Linked DNA regions of Homo sapiens. The protein of the gene in region 2 interacts with the protein of the main gene of each other region in a pairwise test. Each region holds a gene or a part of one and is shown on either strand. Other genes may lie near its edges. The genes, in order: HOXC13 and ELF1.

Region 1 (5,503 bases), on a different chromosome or scaffold from region 2:
AGGCTGTGCTGACCCCATCCCAGCCCCAACTCCAGTCCTGAACTGGCTGAAGGTATTCGGGGCCCTCTGGGGCAATAGAGCACCAGGAGCCTAAGGTTAATTCCTCACTGCCACCGGCTGCCGCATTTACCTCATCCAGTTCCCAGCTGGGATGCTACTTTCTCAGTACCCAGAACCAGATCTGAGCCCCAATTATTAACCGAAGTAACCATCAATGTATTTTTGTCACTGCCTCCAGGCCTTTCAGTCACCAATTACGTCTTTCCTTCCTCAACAAACACTCATCTGAGTTGGACATCAGGATGGAAAGTTTTCTCCTATATAGATAGTATAGATAACCCAAAAACTTAAGTGGAGCAAAACAAGGGTTTGGAATCTACCCAGCTGGGAGCAATGTCTATACTCCTCCCCCTGATCATTCTGGCTGAGTCAGGGCATAGTAGACTGTCCTGAAGAGCCAGTGGACAGAATAGACTTCAGAAAGAATCTGAGCAATAAAATCAAGGCAAAAAAAGATATTTTATTTTAAAAACATGTTTGTGGGTTTTTTTCCTTTTTGCATTCAGTACATTGTCATTCAGACATCACAATACTATATACAGATACACAACATTTTTTAAAAAAGCCTATTCCTGATGAACATTTCAAAAGAACACTGTTTTGTAATGCACCAGTGGGAAGGGAAGAGGCAAGGGGCCCCCACAGCACCAAGGTGGCCTTTGAGGAGGGAACTGTTAGGCAGCATCTACATCTAGCTAATTGAGGGCCAGATCTTCTTGCCTCTTGAACTAGATCCTCTAGCTTTCCTCTGGAAATCAGTAAAGGTGAAAGTGTGAGGAGTCATTCCTGGGCTAGTGCCCTGATGGAAAGGTGACTGGACAGGGACTTTGTTGAGGGACCCACTCTCCATCCCCTTGGAAGAGATGTTTATCCTTAGAAAAAAGTTCTGCTTCTGTACCTGGACTAATCCCCAACCTTACCACCTAGAGAGAGAGAGAGGAGAGAGGAGCCCTATTTAGCAGCGTGGCTGGAGTCTTTGTCCTCCTTGGATTTCCACATGTTGACTGAGAGAGCAGAACAGGGGAGGCAGTGGGGCAAAGGCAGCTCCCACCTGGCCCCAGGAAATGCAGTTTCTTGGTTGGGATGGAGTGTAGGGGCTGCGTCAATGCTTTTACGGAATTCCAGCTTTTACGGAAACATCCATACTCCAATCACGCTGCCAGGTCCCTAATAATTATCATGAGTATTAACACGACTTTTAAAATACGCACAGAAAATCTTTACTGGGAAATCTTGCCTAAGGAGTGCGGGAGGGACAGCGAAGGAAAGTATGAGCTGGACAGATCCTGCTCCGAAGCTGCGCCCTTAGGGAAGGTCCTCTAAAAGCCTGGTCATAGGATGAGGCAAGAATTGGGGCCATTCGGGATTCCCCAACCCTGCTTTGGTTGGAATGATTGGGCTCTGCGCTGCCACCAGACTTTCTGGCAAGGTGAGCGCAAGGAGGAGTAGAGGTCGACAGCCTTCCTCGCACGGCCCACTCGGGACCCATTTCCAAAGCTGTTGAAGCCACGTGAGTCCCATCTGGATGGGGGTGGAGGCTGGGGATGGGATAGGGAGTTGGGGATGGCCCAGCAGCACGGCCATGGAGCCTCTCTGCCTCCGGGCGGCGCGGTTCTTCTCTTTCCTTAACATTAAATACTCTTCTGCACCCGCGCAGCGTCTTTCCGTGGGTTCGGTTATGGTACAAAGCGGAGACATAAATAGATGGGGCAAGCAGCGGGTGGGTGGTCAGGTGGAGTGGAGATGAGGCGCTTTCGATTTGCTGACCACCTTCTTCTCTTTGACCCGCCGGTTCTGGAACCAGATGGTTACCTGGCGCTCAGAGAGGTTCGTGGTGGCGGAGATGCGCCGGCGCTTCTCTTTGGTGATGAACTTGCTAGCCGCGTATTCCTTCTCTAGCTCCTTCAGCTGCACCTTAGTGTAGGGCACGCGTTTCTTGCGCCCGCGCCGGTAGCTGCTCACCTCGGGCTGCAGGGGAACCACGTCTGCGGGGAGATAAGGCAAGCGGGAAGAAGTGAGGCAAGCGGCTGGACTGAGATAGAGGACCCGAGGCTGCCTAGGCACAGAGTTCTGGCAGGGGCTCAACGGGGCCAGAGGATTGCACTGCATAGTGAAGCTCCCTAATGCTTTTCATTTCTGTTATTTTAGCAAGACCACAACTATGATGAGGCCACTGGGCTCGAAGTTTAAGGGAGGGGGCGCCAAAAACTCAGTAATCAAGACGATATTTTAATGCAATGTTTAAAAAAGCAAAACGAATACAAAAACATCCATGATGAACAAAATATCAATTAAAAAAATAAACATGGGTTCGGTATTACTGATTTTCTTTTGTTTCAGGCCCCAATATGGCTCTTCACAGCACTCAATATTAGGATCCTTGTATATTTAGAAGGGACCCTCCAAATTCCAGCCTGGCCTGCCATGCTTGCAGAATTTCAGATATTCAGAAAAATCCCTCCTTCCTGCAGTTAGATCGCTTGGGTCCTTATTAGTTTATATTCTGCCCCGTTGCCAGAGGAAGACATTCTGTTGTATATTTCAGGGAGGGCATGGCAGGCAGGGGGTCAGCTTCAGTGGGCCCAGACCACCAGATGAGTCTTCACGCCTTTGGACACTGGCCCTACGTTAGGGATGTGAGGCACAGATAGAAGATAAGTGTCCAGGTGAAGCCAGCCTGCTTGGAGGTCCACACTCTAGGAATTGGGGTCCAATGTTATGAACCACCTAACACCCAAGGTGGGGGGTCCTGAACCTGAGATATAGGGAATCAGGTGTCTCTGGAAGTAGGGGGTCCACACTGCAGTCCCACCAAAACAGAACAAATTCTGTTCCAACCGCCTTCCCTCTCCATTCCTTCACAGCTGAAGGAAACTGTCTACATCCCTTGCACCAACCATAACCCTAAACCCTAGATGCCTGTCATCCAAACCAATATTACCAGTTCTGTTTCTTTAGGCTCTGAGAATTTCACAGAAACTAAAACCAATATATATCACTTCTAACTCCATTTTCTACTCCACCCTCATCCCTGTCAATAAAGGTCACGCAACACTTTCAAGGGGAAGTGGGGGAACTAGGGAGATTATCTGGATAGCTCAGCCCTCAATTTTTTCCATGTAATTATTAGACTTTAGGTGAAAGCTAATGAGGAGGGCTGAATATTTGGGGTTTCCCCTTCATTCCTACCACATTTTGAAACTATAGACACAGCCCAGAGGGAAGACACAAAGTTCTTTCTGAAATGTTTGTTCCCATCCCACCCTCACAGAACACTTTCCCTGTACCCATCCCCATTGGGTCTGCTTTCTCTCATGGACTCTATACACAATGGGAAGAGTAGTGGTCACAGTGAGACACAGGGGAAAACAAAATGCTCAGGAAGAAAATGGGAGACGGGGTCCAATGGCCTCATTTGACTGTCTTCTGGTGACAATTTCTCAGGAAAACTGTTGGACCTGGCATTTTTCTCTGCCTCTGTGAGAATAAACTATGATTTAAAAAAATCTAAAAAACAAAATAACTTTATTTAAACAGTATGGATCCTTTAGGTTAAAAAGGATTTGTTTTTGAACACGACCATTATCTTTAAATCTCTCAGTTCTCAAATTTGTTTTACTCTTACAGAGGTAACCATGATTTGGGAAATTGACGATTTGTTGACAAGAATAGAATGAAGAGGATATGTAGTGATACCATGAGTTTGTTGCTTTTGTTGTTGTTATTGTTGTTTTTAATCCTCAGAACATTTTTTCAGGATTATTTTGTTAAACTCATTTTACAAGATTAGGAATCTGAGGCTCAGAGTGGGTAAAATAACTTAAGTGGCAGAACCAGATTTTAAAGCCAGACTTTCTGACTCTTAAAATGATACAGTAAGTTTTAAAATGGAAATAGGCCAGCTAATACAATCCAGCTTTAAAACACCTCCTTTTCCCTGGAGAAGAATACAGTAGGGTAAAGGTGGGTTTTTGTTTCTGAATTAGCCAGATAATTGTCCCTAATTTTTTACTTTACTCTCTTTAAACTCTCACAATTACCTATCCAATTTTGGTTTCCTAAATTCTAGCTCTAAATTTCCAATGAGATTTAATCAACCCTAAAAAAAATCAGTTTAAAAAGTAGACAACTGGTTTAAACTGGTTATTTTTCTCTATAGGATGCCAAGGATTGATTTAGCCAATTTGTCCTGGATCAGACCAACTGCAGGTTGGTTTGGCCTCCTGGGGAAATAACTCCAGTCTTGCCTTCTCAAAGAAGCCCCCTTTCTTTGTCTGCTGCCTTATCTGGAAAGGAAATGGTATGTAGAGATGAAGAAACATCTGGTAGCTTGGACCTGGAGATGTGCGTACACTGCCTAAAGTGAGTGGGGGCTTAGTTATTAATCTTACAATCACCCCTTCCCTAGTCTCCCTCCAGATCACATACACGAATGACTTCATGCCTGGAAACCTAATAGACACCTTTGAGGAGTAAATAAAAATCATCTCAATGCTCAGCCATGGCTTTCTTTTTGGGCTTCGGGGCCCCTCTGTTCAGCTCCCCACAGCCCACCCACCCTTGACCACCCGCCCCCCCACAGGCAAGCTCTGGGCTCTGAAGAGTGCCTTGTCCAGCTAGAAATCCAGCTTGCTACTCTTCCCAACCCAAATCCAAAGGCTTGTCAGTAAAGACTTCTAGTGTGGTCCAAATAGCCCACTGTTTCTTTCTCCCTCTTTCTCTCTCCTAAACCCCATCTCTCTTTTTCTCCCTTTCTGATTCTCTCCTGGAATTTCTGCTTCTCTCTCTCTCTCAAAAAAAAAAAAAAAAAAAAAAAAAAAAAAAAAAAAAGTCTACACTCACCGTAGGGAGAAAAAAAAAAAAACCAGAGCAATAAAGCAAGAGTCTGTATAATTGGGAGAAGGAAGAAGCCACGACACATCTTGGCCCTAATTATCTGGATCTTGCTGAACAATTGCCTCCATCTCCCACACCAGCCCAGACTACCACAGATGAGGATTCTCAGAGCCAGAGGCACTGTAGAGAGACAGCAGTGTTTATGCCTACATGTTGCCGAACAAACCACAATTGCACAGACAGAGTTATCTTGAAATCTCACTACTTCTAAAAGATCTCTGAGTGGGTAGAAAGATGGAGAGTGTCTGAAGATAATTTCTTATTCGTCTGCCTCTTGTCTGTACCTCTGCACTCACTGAGATACATCAGCCCAATTCTATTTCCACACGGGGATTGTGGGAGCACATAGCTGCTGAGGCATGCTAGGTTTTATATCCATTTCCATGCCATAATTTGCAAGTGTATTAAATCTCAATTGGGATATACTTTTTTTATTTCAAAGATATTTTTCTCTAGGAGGCTGTGATCAAAAAAGTATTTATTTTTAGTGGAGTTTTGTTTTGTTTTGTTTTGTTTTGTTTTGTGTCCTAGGAATCTTTGAGATGTT
Region 2 (7,289 bases):
ATTTGACAAGTTTTGACTATGTATACTAACACCACCACTACATTCAAAACAATGAATATATTCATCACCCCAAAAGTACTTTGTGCCCCTTTGTAATCCTTACATCTCGCCCTTCCTCACCCTGCCCAATCCACAGGCAACCACTCATCTGTTTCCTGTCATTATAGATTAGTTGGTAGTTTCTAGAGCTTTATATAAAAATAAAACTGACCCTCAAACAAAACACAGCTTTGAACTGCACAGGCCCACTTATATAGGGATCTTTTTTCAATAAAGTTACATCAAGTGTGCCTGTGTCTCCTGCCTCCCCTTCCACTTCCTCCATCTCTTCCACCTCTGCTACTCCTGAGACAGCAAGACCAAACCCTTTTCTTCCTCCTCCCTCCTCAGCCTAGCCAACATAAACACAACAAGCATGAAGACCTTTGGCCAGGCATGGTGGCTCACACCTGTAATCTCAGCATTTGGGAAGGCCAAACCAGGAGGAATGCTTGAGCCTAGAAGTTTAAGACCAAGCTAGGCAACATAGTGAGACCCACCTCTACAAAAATAAAAATTAAAAATTAGCTGGGTATGGTGGGGCTCGCCTGTAGTTTTACATGGATTTTTGGCTGCAGAGGCTGACGGCCCTAACCCCCACATTGTTTGGGGGTAAACTGTAGAAACATATTTTTTCTTCTGGCTTCCCTCTTTTAGCACAATTATTTTGAGAGATTCATCCATTTTTGTTGAATGTACCAATCGTATATTGTTTTATTGTTGAGTGGTATTTTTACTGTGTTGATAAAAGTGCCACTGCACTCCAGCCTGGGTGAGAGAACGAGACTCCATCTCAAAAAAAAAAAAAAAGATACACAAATGTTCTTAGCAGCATTATTTGCAGTTGCCCCAAACTACAAACAACCCAAATCCCATTAACTGCTGACTGGGTAAACAAATACTACATATTTAAGAAAAATTTGTACATAAATGGCCAGGCAGGGTGGCTCATCCATGTAATCCCAGCACTTGGGAGGTCGAGGCGGTGGACCACTTGAGGTCAGGAGTTCAAGACCAGCCTGGCCAACATGGTGAAACCTCATCTCTACTAAAAATACAAAAATCAGCCAGGTGTGGTGGCACATGCCTTTAATCCCAGCTACCTGGGAGGCAGAGGCAGGAGAATCACCTGAACCCAAGAGGTGGAGGATGCAATGAGTTGAGATCAGCCATTTATGTACAAATTTTTCTATAAACATAGTTAATCCTGGGCCTGTCTTAACCTGGGTTTACAACTAGATTTTAAACTACCACTAACATTAGGAATTGCCAGCCAAGTAATTAACACAGATGTAGCCCCAGGACTGTAATAACTATGGGGCACCAGGCAGAAGCTCTTATAGAATTGCTCAGGTGGGTTATACATTCAACCTAGGCCATACAAGATTTCCTCAGATAAAGCCCCGTTGAAGCTGAACTCACATTTTGGTATCACAGAATACATGAGGAAGACACTTTCTGAGTGAGAAGCAGTAGACTAGGAAACCCTAGGATTAGTTCTCTAAGAATCACACATAACAGAATTATTAAATAGAAACTTTACATAGTATGATTAGAGGTTTTAAAGCAAAAGAACAAAAACATGGTCGAAGAATAAGGCTATTAAAAAAGACTAGGTGGGAACTTCCTCTTCTAGTCAAGATGGAATAACAGAACATGGATTTATCTTCCCACCTGAAACAATTAAAAACACAGAAAAAAAGGTATGAAACAATGGTACTGAAGAAATTGGACATCGGTCAACAAAAGCCAGTGATCCCTGAGAGACAGGAAATAAATGAGGCAAGTCCTATGACTGCCCCACCTTAATACATGGAGAAAAAATTTTTTGGAAAGCAGTTTGTGTTTCTGAAAAATATTTAATGTACACTTAACATGTGATCCAGCCATTCCACTACTAAGTATTTACCCAAAAGAAATTAAACCAGAATTTCTCCACTCAGAGGCCTGGCTGAATGGGACCCAAGCTTCCTTGACATCTGTCTGTGCCAATGGGTGGATTTCTTTCCCCCAAGAGGGTATATCCCTTCAAGGGTCCCAGTTACATGCTGAGGTCTCTGTCCGATACCCCATCTTGCGTAGCCCAAGACCTAAGCTTCTGCCTCAACACGGACAATAAAACCAGAGCCCCTCGGCATATCCTTCTCAGCCCTTCTGAGCTGCTGCAGTGTCGGCTCATGTTTACTATTTTTATTTTCCTCTTCATTTTCAGCTCTTGGAATTTCCCTGACTTTCACATGAACTTAGGTTACTGGGTGGGTGGTGATGCTATTAATCAAGACATTATACTCAAAATACTAAGCAAGCATGAGTAGAATCAGAAGGCAATAAAATGGAAAAGGTGTCAGACTTTAGAATGCAAGTGTGGTCCTAATTGGCAAAAAGTTAAAAATTCCCACTCAACACATCCTAAAATACTCCTCTTCAGTTACTTACCTGCTGATTTCCAACCCATTGTATTTTTCCAACTGGAGTCTTATACTGGAATCACCGGTACAGACTGGAGGCTTTCAAACAATAACCCCTGGGAAGGAAGCTGACTAGACCTTACCCAAGGACAAAAGGGTTTAGATAAAAATTTGAGGCTTTAAAAAGTTGGAAAATCCCTTTTCTGTAAGATAGACCAAACTTTTTAAAAGTATAAAATAATTTAATTATTATCATTATTTTTTTGAGATGGAGTTTCACTCTTGTTGCCCAGGCTAGAGTTCAATGTTGTGGTCTCAGCTCACTGTAACCTCCACTTCCTGGGTTCAAGTGATTCTCCTGCCTCAGCTTCCCAAGTAGCTGGGATTACAGGCACCTGTCAACATGCCCGGCTAATTTTCATATTTTTAGTAGAGACGGGGTTTCACCTTATTGGCCAGGCTGGTCTCAAACCCCTGACCTCAGGTTATCCACCCACCCCCACCTCCCAAAGTGCTGGGATTAAAGGCATGAGCCACCGCACCTGGCCCAATACTTTAATTTTTTAAAAGAAATGATTCTACTATGAAGAAATACCTCTTTTTCTTATTTATTTATTTTTATTTTATTTTATTTCTTAGAGATAGGGTCTCAGTCTGTTGCCCAGGCTGGAGTGCAGTGGCATGACCTTAGCTCGCTGAAACCTGTAACTCCTGAGCTCAAGGGATCCTCCACCTTGGCCTCCCAAGTATCTAGGACTACAGGTGCCTACCGTGCCCAGCTAATTCTTAAAATTTTTTGTAGAGATGAGGTCTTGCTTTGTTGCCCAGGCTGGTCTCAAACTCCTGGCCTCAAACAATCTTCCTGCCTCGGCCTCCTAAAGTGCTGGGATTACAGGCATGAATCTCCGTGCCTGGCCAAGAAATAACTCATAATTTCCATTTTGTGCCTTCAATGTTTTTCTTACATAAGTTTTAACTGCAGCAGGAAAGAACTATGTAGAATAAAAGTGATATCTAGATTTCACACCAAGACTTGACTATGCGCCCTAAACAAAGTAACCCACCTACCTTTTTTCCTCTTAGGCTGTTCTGGTGATGAGGCTCCCGGTGAGTCTGCATATTTTTCTTGCACCTGCTGTGTTTCCATCACTTCAGGAATCCCATCTAATGTGACGGACACATGGGTGACTGGGGCAACAACCATGTCATCTTCAGGTGAACTAAATATATTATTATCTAATGAAAATAAAATCAACTAATTATAGTCCACTGTGTATTATAAGTTAAAAAACGATTGAGAAAATTTCTTGTTTCTATTATGACTAGAAGATTAAAGTAGAAATAAAATCTTGAAATCTATTCCTGCGTTTAAGTTCCCCTTCCCAAAATCAAATACCCTAAACCAGTCCAGGCACGGCGAGCTATTTCAATGTCTTTCTTACTTGACTTCCTATCACCAGTCTGTCTCATCTCTCCTCTTGATTATTCACATTGCTGTGAGAGTTATTTTCTGAAACCTAAGTCTGACCTGACCATAAAATTAGGGGAATAAAAAACAAAACTGACATACCTTTCCATAGTTCATAGGAAAAACAAAAAACAAACAAAAAAATAATCACAACCCATCTCTATAGCATGCCTTACAAAGCTTCTGTAATCTAGTTCCAAACCTACCTTTCCAATCTCATTTCCCACCCACCATGAAGCTTACACTTCAACCACACCAAAACATCTTGATCTCAAAGATTTCATTCATTTTTTTTTTAACAGATCTGTGTCTTGTATCTTTAACTCCATTCCCTCCAGCTTGAATGACCTTTCATGTCTCTTCTACCTATTAAAAGCTTGTCATTTACAGCCCAGGTCAGAATACTCCTTCAATGAAGCCAGTCTCTGATATTCTCAGCTAGAATACCCACTGCTACTAGAGCAATTCGCTATCACTCTTGTGGCCTTTATTCTTGGCTTTGTAGTTATTTACATAAGTAACTGTCTTCAAAATTAAACTGTAAGCTTGAGGAAAGGAACAGTATCTGCTCATTTGTATCTCATGTTATTGCCTAATTATTGCTGCTGTGAATATAGCAAATATTGAATAAACATTTTAGACTGATTTAGCAATAATTTACTTTATGAATTTGATTGCTTGTCAGAAAAGCCCAAAGGAGAACAGGAATTTTAAAGCAGATCAATAATGTGGCAGTGAATTTTATGCCATGATGTGTCAGTAAAATTTTCAATAGATTGTTGCCTATTTGCTGATAACTACAGAGATGACTAAATTATAATCATTTGGGCCCTTGATACCCTAATACTCTCATCAATATGTTAAGAGAAGAAATTCTGCATGATCTTCTATTTGGTAAGTAATAAATTACATTTTTTTGTTCCCAAAGGCTTCATTCTCAAATTAAAATGTCATCTTTAACTCTACGTTTTTGCAAAGGCACCTCAATTCCTACTATACCTTAAAATGTGATTGTAACAAAAAATATATAACATCATTTCTAATCTCTTGATTTTACTAATAAAGAAAGATGGCAAGAGTAACTTAACAAAGTACATAAACATAAACAATCATAATCACTCACTTATTCGTTTTTCATCCAGCATAGGGCCAGGGGAATCCATATTGAGGAGTGCCTCAGCAGCCTCAATAGTTTCAATTGTTTCATCCCCGTCATGACAAGAAGCTTCAACTGCAACACATTTAAAGAGAAAATTAAATTAACTACGAGACATCTGTTACTCTGAAAGTCATACACCGCTTATCTCTAGAACCAGAATACATCATTTAATATTTTAGTTTATATATATATATAAACTATAAACACACAAAATCATACCAAACCTGGCTGGCGCAGTGGCTCATTCCTGTAATCCCGCACTTTGGGAAGCCGAGGCAAGCAGATTGCTTGAGGTCAGGAGTCTGAGACTGGCCAACATGGAGAAACCCTGTTTCTACTAAAAATACAAAAAATTAGCTGGGCGTGGTGGCACGCACCTGTAGTCCCAGCTACTCAGGAGAGTGAGATAGGAGAATCGTTTGAACCCAGAAGGTGGAGGTTTCAATGAGCTGAGACTAAACCACTGCACTCCAGTCTGGGTGACAGAGTGAGACTCTGTCTTAAAAAAAAAAAACAGAAACTATTACATTAAAAAATCAATATTTCCTTAATATTAAATAGCCAACCAGCATTCAAATGTTCAATTGTGTTAAAAAATCATAAATGGTGGCAGTGCAAGGAAAGACAAGACAGTTTTTTGCTTAAATCAAATTAAGTCTGCATATTGCAATTGACTGATACATTTCTTAACTTTCTTTACATTTCTGAGTTGCCATTCATCTGTCTAGCTTTTTTTACTTTGCAATTTATTTGTTGAAGAACTCAGGCTGTTTATTCATGTAGAATTTCCCATAGTTTGGATTTTGCCAACTATATTCCTATTGTGTAGCTTAACATGTTTTTCTATACCCCCTCTAACTGAGTAGTCATATCTGGAGGCTTGATGAAATTCAACTTTAATTTTTTTTGGCAAGACTAAAAAAAAATTTATGTATTTTGATGACAGCTCAAAATATAATCTAAGCCTCAAATTTCATAAAATCATTAAATCTTTTTGGTTTTGCTTTTTTTTTTTGAGACAAGGTCTTACCCTGTCTCCCAGGCTAGAGTGCAGTGGCTCAATTATAGCTCACTGCAACCATAAACTCCTAGGCTCAAGCAATCCTACCACCTCAGCCTCCCGAGTAGACAGGACTACAGTCTCAGGCCACCATGCCCAGCTAATTTTTAAAATTTTTTTAGAGACAGGGTCCCGCTATGTTGCTCACTTGAATTCCTCAAGCCAGGCCTGAATTCCTCAAGCCAGGCCTTGAATTCCTGGGCTCAGGTGATCCTCCCTCCTTGGCCTCCCAAAGTTCTGGGATTACAGGTGTGAGCCGCTGCATCTGTTCAAATATTTTTATTATGAAAATTTTAAACAAAATAAAAATTGTGGAGTATAGTATATATAATGAATCCCCATGTGCCCATTCCTAGCTTCAACTATTATCACCAAATGGCCAATCTTCTTTCATCCATACCCCACTCACTGCCCTCAAGTCCTTACCCTCTGTACAGGATTATTTTGAAGGAATCTAAAATACCATATTTTATCTCTAAATACTTTAGCATGTGTATCTAAAAGATGTCTAACACAATACTACTATCATATCTTAAATATACTAACAATAAATCTTTTTTTTTTTTTTTGAGACAAAGTTTCAATCTTGTTGCCCAGGCTGGAGTGCAATGGTGTGATCTTGGCTCACCGCAACCTCTGCCTCCCAGATTCAAGCGATTCTCCTGCCTCAGCCTCTTGAGTAGCTGGGAATACAGGCATGTGCCACCATGCCCAGCTAATTCTGTATTTTCAGTAGAGACGGGATTTCTCCATGTTGGTCAGGCTGGTCTTGAACTCCCGACCTCAGGTGATCTGCCCGCCTCGGCCTCCCAAAGTGCTGGGATTACAAGTGTCAGCCACCGTGCCCGGCCTACAGTAATTCTTTAATATCATCTATTATAGGCTGAATGGTATCCCCCAAAATTCTATGTTGACATGCTAACCCCCAGTACCTCAGAATGTCTTTAAAGAGATAACTGAGTTAAAATGAGGTTATTAGTGTAGGCCCTAATCCAATATGGTTAGTGTCCCTCTAAGATGAAATATGAACACTGGCAGGTACAAAACATAAGACCATGTGAAGACACTGGAAGACAAGTCACCTATAAGTCCAGAAAGAAGCCTCAGAAGGAATTAACTCTACCAATATCTTGATCTCAGACTTCTAGCTTCCAG

What was found.
Region 1: the proteins of ELF1 (region 2) and HOXC13 interact in binary tests that used the Homo sapiens proteins (3 or more experiments, as listed by UniProt).

The regions. Positions count from the first base shown.
Region 1 is NC_000012.12:53,941,542-53,947,044, reverse strand, and holds the end of HOXC13 (homeobox protein Hox-C13), read right to left. Parts: intron 2,046-5,503; coding exon 1,789-2,045; 3' UTR 501-1,788; downstream 1-500. UniProt on the Homo sapiens protein: Transcription factor which plays a role in hair follicle differentiation. Regulates FOXQ1 expression and that of other hair-specific genes.
Region 2 is NC_000013.11:40,946,291-40,953,579, forward strand, and holds part of ELF1 (ETS-related transcription factor Elf-1), read right to left. Parts: intron 5,147-7,289; coding exon 5,039-5,146; intron 3,684-5,038; coding exon 3,516-3,683; intron 1-3,515.